Regions from separate parts of the Homo sapiens genome. Here region 1 is reported to be linked to region 2. Evidence: microRNA targets listed by miRTarBase, many of them from high-throughput screens and not tested one by one. Region 2 holds a microRNA gene; the other region holds the end of a gene's coding sequence.
What was found. Region 2 holds the annotated microRNA hsa-miR-4271 (GGGGGAAGAAAAGGUGGGG, at 1,865-1,883, shown strand). A microRNA usually pairs through its seed, bases 2 to 8, with sites in the 3' UTR of a target mRNA and lowers its output. Matches are read on the target gene's strand: a 7mer-m8 pairs with bases 2 to 8, a 7mer-A1 pairs with bases 2 to 7 and ends in A, and an 8mer does both.

Region 1 (4,067 bases), not on the chromosome of region 2:
AAGATTAACCAGGCATGGTGGCTCACACCTGGAGTCCCAGCTACTTGGGAGGCTGAGGTGGGAGGGTCCCTTGAACCCAGAAGTTCAAGACTGCAGTGAGTCATGATCACACCACTGCACTCCAGCCAAGAGAATAAGACCCTGTCTCAAAAATTAAAAGGGGGACGGGGGTGGCAAGGAACTTTTTTGTACCTGTTAGCATAAAAGGTGATCTGCATCATAAAGTCGTCTCATTGTCATTATTTGCGGAAGGTACATGCTTTTTTCTAACAGCAACATATACATTCTTCCAGAAAAATTCATTTGATTTTTCTAACTTATTTTTTGTTTCCATCAATGTTTTCTTTTCAGACTTGGCTTCAACCAACTCAGGACATAGCGATTGCTCAGTTTCTATGGGAAACCTTTCTCCTCTGGCCTCCCCAGCCAACCTCTTACAGCAGACTGAGGACCAAATTCCTTCCAACCTAGAAGGACCGTTTGTGAACTTACTGCCTCCCCTGCTGCAAGAGGACTATCTCCTGAGCCTCGGGGAGGAGGAAGGCATCAGCGATCTCTTCGATGCTTACGATTTGGAAAAGCTCCCACTGGTGGAAGACTTCATGTGTAGTTGATTATGCTTCGTGTGAACTCTCCTTAAAAACCGATATTTTTTTATCATGGAACCAGAACATCTGTCATGCAGTGTTGTCCCTTCCTACCTTCTTCCTCCAAGAGAGTATCATGAAGTAAACTACAAACTTCAGAAGAAAGCTGACATTTTAATGAATTTTTTAAAAAATTAATAAACAAATTGTCTAAACGCACAGTTGCAGGCTCCCTTGGGAAAGCCCTGCTTTGCTCCAGGCTCCAAGATCTCCTGGCTAAGTCAGCAAGTGAGAAAATGTGCAATCAGGTGTCTCTCACCCCGAATTGTCCTTCCTCCTTCCTCCCCGGATTGGCTTGCTGTGCCTGACGGATGGGCTGTAGAATGGGGTCTGGCCACCTGGCCTGCTGGGAAACAGCAATCTTCCTTAATAGCATTTCAAGCCGTGCCTTCTCCGCAGAATGCATGTCTTTGAGGTCTGCTAATATGGAATGGAACTGCAGCAAATGCAAACTTGAAGTCATGCAAAAGTATGAAATGGATTTCTTCAGCTCTTCTTAGGAATATTTAAATTACTGTCATAATTCAGTTTAAGCTATGAACTGTGTGTCCCAGTAGGAGGTCAAGAAAACCTCCACAGCCTTCTGGATGAAGAACCTGTTTTCAAATATACTTGTTGCAGATACAGAAGACTAGTAGAGTTCTGCCACTCTAAGCTGTTGTGGATTTTCCTGTCTCCATGAACCACTCCCATTCCCCCGTCCCCAATGTGTTTGTGAGTTTCCAGTTGATTTGTAGCAAATGCCTACTTAGTTCTTTGTGGATTGTTCTAGACTTTTAATTTTTTTAGCTGCCATTTAAGCATTCCTGTGGCACCCATCACCATTTCAATTTAATTGTTTACTTTGAAGCGGTTTTTGCAAATTCATATTACTTAAGCAGAGGGAGAGAACCTCTACTGATCAGAGCATCTAAACCTGTGTGATCTAAGGTTTATCAGCCTCTGCAAGGAGCTTTGTCCCATCGTGCTTCCATTCCCAGGAGGGGGAGCTTGGAGCGAGTCAGTCCTGGGGCTTGCTGACATGGGTGGCCCATTGGAAAGGAGAACCAGGTCAGATGATGTAACAGCCCCAAGGAGCAGCAGGCATGGGTCCCTCCATCCTTGGGCTTCCCGGGCCCCTGTGACAGGGGAAAGGGCTCTCTTACACCGCACTCAGGGAGACCACTTCTCAGGATGGGGTCAGATGGAGAGACCTCTAGGGAGAAAGACATCCCCATTGTGTGAGTGGCATTTCCTTAAGCTGGCAGGAACAGGGAGCAGCCCTGTGTCGGGGGCTGGAATAGTTCTGGCCAGACCCCGTTCCCCTTCCTCTATGAAGGAATAAGTTGGACCAAGGGAAGTCGGGGACGTAAAAAATGAAGCAAAACAATGCCAGGGTGTCTCCCGCTTTACTCTTCAGGAATGGTGTCCCAAGTTGGAGGCTTTGTGTCAGCTGCAAATCCTACCAGTTATGTCCAAGAATGGCTTTCCCTCGGGCAGGTGGCAGCGGCCATCTCCCACTGGGAATATGGCGTAGTATCTCCGGTCCATTCCTTGGATGCTAAGGACTGCGGGAATGAGGGAGTCAGATAAAGAACAAACCTCGAAACGAACAGTTAAATTGAAATGCTATGTGCCTGACCCAATGGTAGGCACATAGTAGGCACTCAACTCATATGTTTAATTGAATTGAAAATATCCCTTAGGAAAAAAAAAAAACACACAAAAAACCACAAGAGCCCCAGCCAGTTTACTCCAGGTAGATTTCCACAATATGCAAAGTGGTGGTGGGGTCAAGACAGATGACACCAGCACTTTAAACTCTTTGTGTGGGTATGCGTGGGTGTATGTTTGGGAAGAAAAACAAAGGTGCAGACTATCTTCCTTTTTTTCTTCTTCAGCCTCCATCCCTGGCCTCCTCCCCTCACACACACTGGACTTGGTACAAAATGTCGGTGTGGTCCTAGATGAAGCATTGGGGTGGGGGAGGGAGAGGGAGCTTTGTGTTAAGTGCCTACTGGAAATGCACTGTGGGGTTTTTTCCTGTATGGGAAACCATTTATGCCAAGCTTTTCCCCATTTCCCATATTTATCTCATCTGGTTAGCTGCCTCTGCTTCCAGCTTTGTGTAATTCTCTTTGCCAGCTGCACAAAGCTGATTTTTTCCAAAGTCTAAAGACTGAGCTCACCTGGCTAGATTGTTGTGTGTTTTGTTGAATTTTTTCATAATGTAATGCCGTATTTATTGTTTTTAAAATGAAAGGAATACTAATAAGTCTTAAAAGTTCCTTCATGCATAAGATTTTTTTCCAGTTACTGGGTTTAACTGGTGTACATTAATTAGATGTCCATACTGTATTTTGTTTGCATTAAGTAATTTTCTTTTTGACTTAGTATCCGGCACACAAAGTGGGTTAGTACTACAGTATTTGCGTTACTTTAAGTACTAAGTATGCAGGTTTCCTGGTACCATTGAGTTGCTGCTATTAAAGCTCACACACGAAATGGCTAAAAGTTACAAGTGTGCAAATTATGACTGCGTGAGCCTTAGAAAATAAAATGTATAAAGGGCAACACATGAGCTGTCAAACAGTGTTAGGAGTGTGTTTATATGTACAGAGTTGTGCATAGCAATCGTTTTATTTAAGTTGATATGTAGTCTACTCACATTTTCATTATTTAGCAATTTTGTACAAAAATAGCAATTAATTTGTAAACACTGCCAGAATACTTTCTAGCTGCTTTGTAATTTTTTAAGAGTGTTATTTTGTTTTTGTTTTTCTGTTCTTTGTTGTGGCTCTTGTTTTCATTTTTGTTGTACGTGTAGATCTGTAAATAAAATTGCAGTATTTAAAGCTTAAGCTTTCAGGAAAAAGAAAATAAGAATTCAGTGTGTGCATGACAACTCGTGTGTATGAGAAGGAGGGATATGAAGGAAGATGGCTTGCAGAGTAAGTCGGGTGGCAATTGTCAGGGTGTGGGAATTTCTTTTCCTACGGGGTACGTGATTTTGTAAAAAGGAAGTATTTCTCCCAAAATTGGGAGTAGGCAAACTACTAATCAGTTTAGCTTTGTGTTGTATGCTAGTTTAAAAAAGAAAATATGTAATATAATGTAAAAAAAAACAAAAAAAAGCTTTTATGATGGATTTTGTAAATAGATTTGTTACAGGGTGACCTGTTCTCTAGCTGTGATCTTACCACTTCAAATGGGTGTAATTTGAATAAATTTTGTATGGTAAAGGATCAATAAAATGATTTTTTTTAAGAGTTCAGGCTTGTGGATGGGTTTTCTTTAATATTATCTTGTGCTCCTCTATTAATTGAATTTTTTTCATTTTCTTTTTCTTTTTTTTTTTTTTGTTTTGTTTTTTGAGGCAGAGTCAATCACTCTCACCCAGGCTGGAGTGCAGTGGCACAATCTTGGTTCACTGCAACCTCC
Region 2 (4,069 bases):
TTCAAGACCAGCCTGGGTAACAAAGCAAGACCTTGTCTCTATTTATAAAAAATACTACTACTAATAATAAAAAGACAAAATAAAAAATAGAGCACATGTAGTTCACATACAGGACATTCAGATTTGTATGTAGAAAAAAAGTCTGACAGGATGTATGCTATACTATATCTATATTAACAGTGGTTATCTCTGGGTGGTAGAATTATAGGAAAGCTTTTGACTTCTAATTTTTCTCCTAATCTTTTTTTTTTTTTTTTTTTTTTTTTTTTGAGACAGAGTCTCATTCTGTCACCCAGGCTGGAGGGCAGTGGTGCGATCTCGGCTCACTGCAACCTCTGCCCTCTGCCTCCTGGGTTGAAACAATTCTCATGCCTCAGCCATCCAAGTGGCTGGGATTACAGGTGTGCACCACCACGCCTGGCTAATTTTTTGTGTTTTTAGTAGAGAAGGGGTTTTGCCATGTTGCCCAGGCTGATCTCGAACTCCTGACCTCAAGTGATCTGCCCGCCTCAGCCTCCCAAAGTGCTAGGACTAAAGGTGTGAGCCACTGTGCCCAGCCCTTTTCTCCTAATCTTTAATTACTGACCCCAGCTAAATTACTCTCTCCTTTTTGCCTATGTCCTGTTTCCTAAAAATTTAAGCTCAATCACCATGTCCTAGTGGCCACCATCCCTTGCCTTCAGGGACTCAGTGCATCTAAACATTGATGACATGACCTGATTGATGTATCTATCACCTCACAAGATAATCAGTTGTATGAGGGAAGGGACAGGTTTTGTTAACATTCAGTTCCCTAATCAATGCAGAGTCTGAGCAAAACATCTACCAAATAAAAAGATAAGAGTGTTTTGGCCGGGAGTGGTGGCTCTTGCCTGATCCCAGCACTGGGAGGCCACAGTAAGTGGATTACTTGAGACTAGGAGTTCGAGACCAGCCTGGACAACACAGCAAAACCCTAATACAAATATTAGCCAATCATGGTGGCGTGCACCTGTAGTACTAGTGTAGTACTATGGCTACTTGGGAGGCTGAGCTGGGAGGATCACCTGAGCCCAGGGAGGTTGAGGCTGCAGTGAACTGTGATCGTGCCACTGCACTCCAGCCTGGGTAATATGATGAGACTCTGTCTCTCCCCCCAAAAAGTGGTGGTGGTGTTTTTTCTTTTGAGATGAGGTCTCGCACAGTTGCCCAGGCTGCAGTACAGTGGTATGATCATAGCTTGAACTCCTGGGCTCAAGTGATCCTTCCACCTCAGCCTCCCTAGTAGCTGGGATTATGGGCACACACCACTGTGCCCAGCTAATTAAAAAAAATTTTAAGAGACAGATCTCGCTATGTATGGTACCCAAGCTAGAAGAGAGTGTTTTTTGTTTTTTTTTGAGATGGGAGTCTCACTCTGTCCCCCAGGCTGGAGTGCAGTGGCAAGATCTCAGCTCACTGCAACCTCTGCCTCCCGGGTTCAAGCAATTCTCCTGCCTCGGCCTCCCGAGTAGCTGGGATTACCGGCGTGCACCACCACGCCTGGCTAATTTTTGTATTTTTAGTAGAGACGGGGTTTCACCATATTGGTTAGACTGGTCTTGAACTCCTGACCTCATGATTCGATCTCCTCGGCCTTCCAAAGTGCTGGGATTACAGGCATGAACCACCGTGCCTGGCCGAGAGCATTTCTTATATCTGAGATATTTGCTGACTCAGACCCATGTGAAGGACCTATCTTCCCAAGGACAGGATGGACTTGCCCACTGTACTCACCAATCATATCAAGCAGATCCTTTGTGACCTCTTGGCTAGAATTGTTGAGTGGCATGTTTGAGTCAGCCTTCAAATCTCTCTCCATATCTTTCCTGCAGCCCCCAGGTGGGGGGGAAGAAAAGGTGGGGAATTAGATTCTCTTTCAAGAAAATATTGAAGGGAAACTCAGTTTTAGATAATCTCAAAGACAAAAACTTACTGGTGACCTTGTCATTTATGCTTTGATTAAAGGACAATTGGAAACTGCTACATCAGTGGAGAAATTGACTAACAGCTTTACCATAATGACTCACGAGCATCGCAGACTGTATTAAATTTTTTTCTTTTTTAGAGACAGGGTTTAGCCATGTTGCCCAGGCTGGTCTCGAACTCCTGGGCTCAGGCGATCCACTCGCCTCAGCCTCCCAAAGTGCTGGGAATACGGGCATGAGCCACCTCACCCAGCCTGCATTTGTTTACTTATTTATTTATTTTTATTTTTTATTTATTTTTTTGAGATGAAGTCTCGCTTTGTCCCCCAGGCTGGAGTGCAATGGCGCAATCACGGCTCACTGCAACCTCTGCCTCCCAGGTTCAAGTGATTCTCCTGCCTCAGCCTCCTGAGTAGCTGGGATTACAGGCGCCTGCCACCACGCCCAGCTAATTTTTGTATTTTTAGTAGAGATGGGGGTTTCACCATGTTGGCCAGGCTGGTCTCGAACTCCTGACCTCAGGTGATCTGCCCGCCTCAGTCTTCCAAAGTGCTGGGATTACAGGAGTGAACCACCGCGCCTGGCCTGTTTGTTTTAAAGACAGAGTCTTGCTCTTGTCGCCCAGGCTGGTGTGCAAGGGCGCAATTTCGGCTCATCGCAACCTCCTTCTCCTGGGTTCAAGCGATTCTCCTGTCTCAGCCTCTGGAGCAGCTGGGATTACAGGCGGCCGCAACGGCACCCAGCTAATTTTTCTATTTTTAGTAGAGACGGGGTTTCACCATGTTGGCCAGGCTGGTCTCAAACTCCTGACCTCAGGTGATTCATCCGCCTCAGCCTCTCAAAGTGCTGGGATTCAGGCGTGAGCCACTGTGCCCAGCATTTTTTTTTTTTTAAGATGGAGTCTTGCTCTGTTGCCCAGGCTGGAGTGCCATGGCAAGATCTCAGCTCACTGCAACCTCTGCCTCCAGGATTCAAGCAATTCTCCTGCCTCGGCCTCCCAAGTAGCTGGGATCATAGGCGCGCGCCACCACGCTCGGCTTATGTTTGTATTTTTAGTGGAGACGGGGTTTCACCAGACCTCAAGCGATCCACCCACCTCAGCCTCCCAAAGTGCTGAGATTACAGGCGTGCCACCACACCCGGCAAGGCCTGCACTGCTTATGAGTACCAATATAAATATTTGTGGAGTTGAAAGGAAAAAAATTCTTGTGGAGTTGAACCAATTAAATGGCCTCTTTATCCCCTTCCTATGAAGCAGCCAAGATGGCAGAACTTTGAAGTTTTTTTTTTTTTTTTTTTTTTTTTTTTTGATACGGAGTCTCGCTCTGTCGCCCAGGCTGGAGTGCAGTGGCGTGATCTCGGCTCACTGCAAGCTCCGCCTCCCGGGTTCATGCCATTCTCCTGCCTCAGCCTCCCGAGTAGCTGGGACTACAGGCGCCCGCCACCACGCCCGGCTAATTTTTTGTATTTTTAGTAGAGACAGAGTTTCACCGTGTTAGCCAGGATGGTCTCGATCTCCTGACCTCGTGATCTGCCCGCCTCGGCCTCCCAAAGTGCTGGGATTACAAGTGTGAGCCACCGCGCCCGGCCTGAAGTTTCATCTCATACATTCATCCCTTCTCCAAGTCAAGGTGCCTGGGACCAGGCAATTTCAAGTTACTCGGGAGAAGAAAAAGTCTAGAAGAGACCTGGTGATGGTCCAAAAAGATCTGGGGTAAGAGCGGGGAGCAGAGGCAAAGATGAAGCCAGGAAGTAGGGCCCAGCCTTCAATTAAGCCTCTCCCTAATGTGGGCAAAGGAGGGTATCAAAGGCCCCAGTGTCCAGATTCAAACACAGGAGTTAAGATGGAATTAAGACTTTTGTTTCTGCAACTTAAAAAATAAGGTTATTTTTAAAACCCGGTTATTTTACATCCACTACCCCTTTGGGTACTGCAAAGTGGTTTCCATGACTGGTTTTTGACATCAACGATTGACAACTAGCCCCTCAACTGGAACATATACACAAAATATAACTGTTTCCTAGGCCAGATTCTGAAGAATGTCTGTCAACTCCCCAAATGCAGTCACAGAGCTGCCAAGAGGAGGCAAGAGCACTGTCATGAACTAAATCTAGGATCTTCA

Region 1: miRTarBase lists E2F3 as a target of hsa-miR-4271. Seed matches in the 3' UTR shown: 7mer-A1 at 2,699-2,705.

Annotation. Positions count from the first base shown.
Region 1 is chr6:20,489,817-20,493,883 of GRCh38, forward strand. It overlaps E2F3 (E2F transcription factor 3), which reads left to right. Exons shown (of 7, transcript NM_001949.5): 7 at 352-3,898. The coding sequence ends at 614. Among named protein-coding and RNA genes, the nearest start is that of CDKAL1, 43 kb to the right of the region's middle.
Region 2 is chr3:49,272,294-49,276,362 of GRCh38, forward strand. It overlaps MIR4271 (microRNA 4271), which reads left to right and starts at 1,827; the gene lies at 1,827-1,893. C3orf62 (chromosome 3 open reading frame 62) reads right to left here. Exons shown (of 3, transcript NM_198562.3): 2 at 1,756-1,847.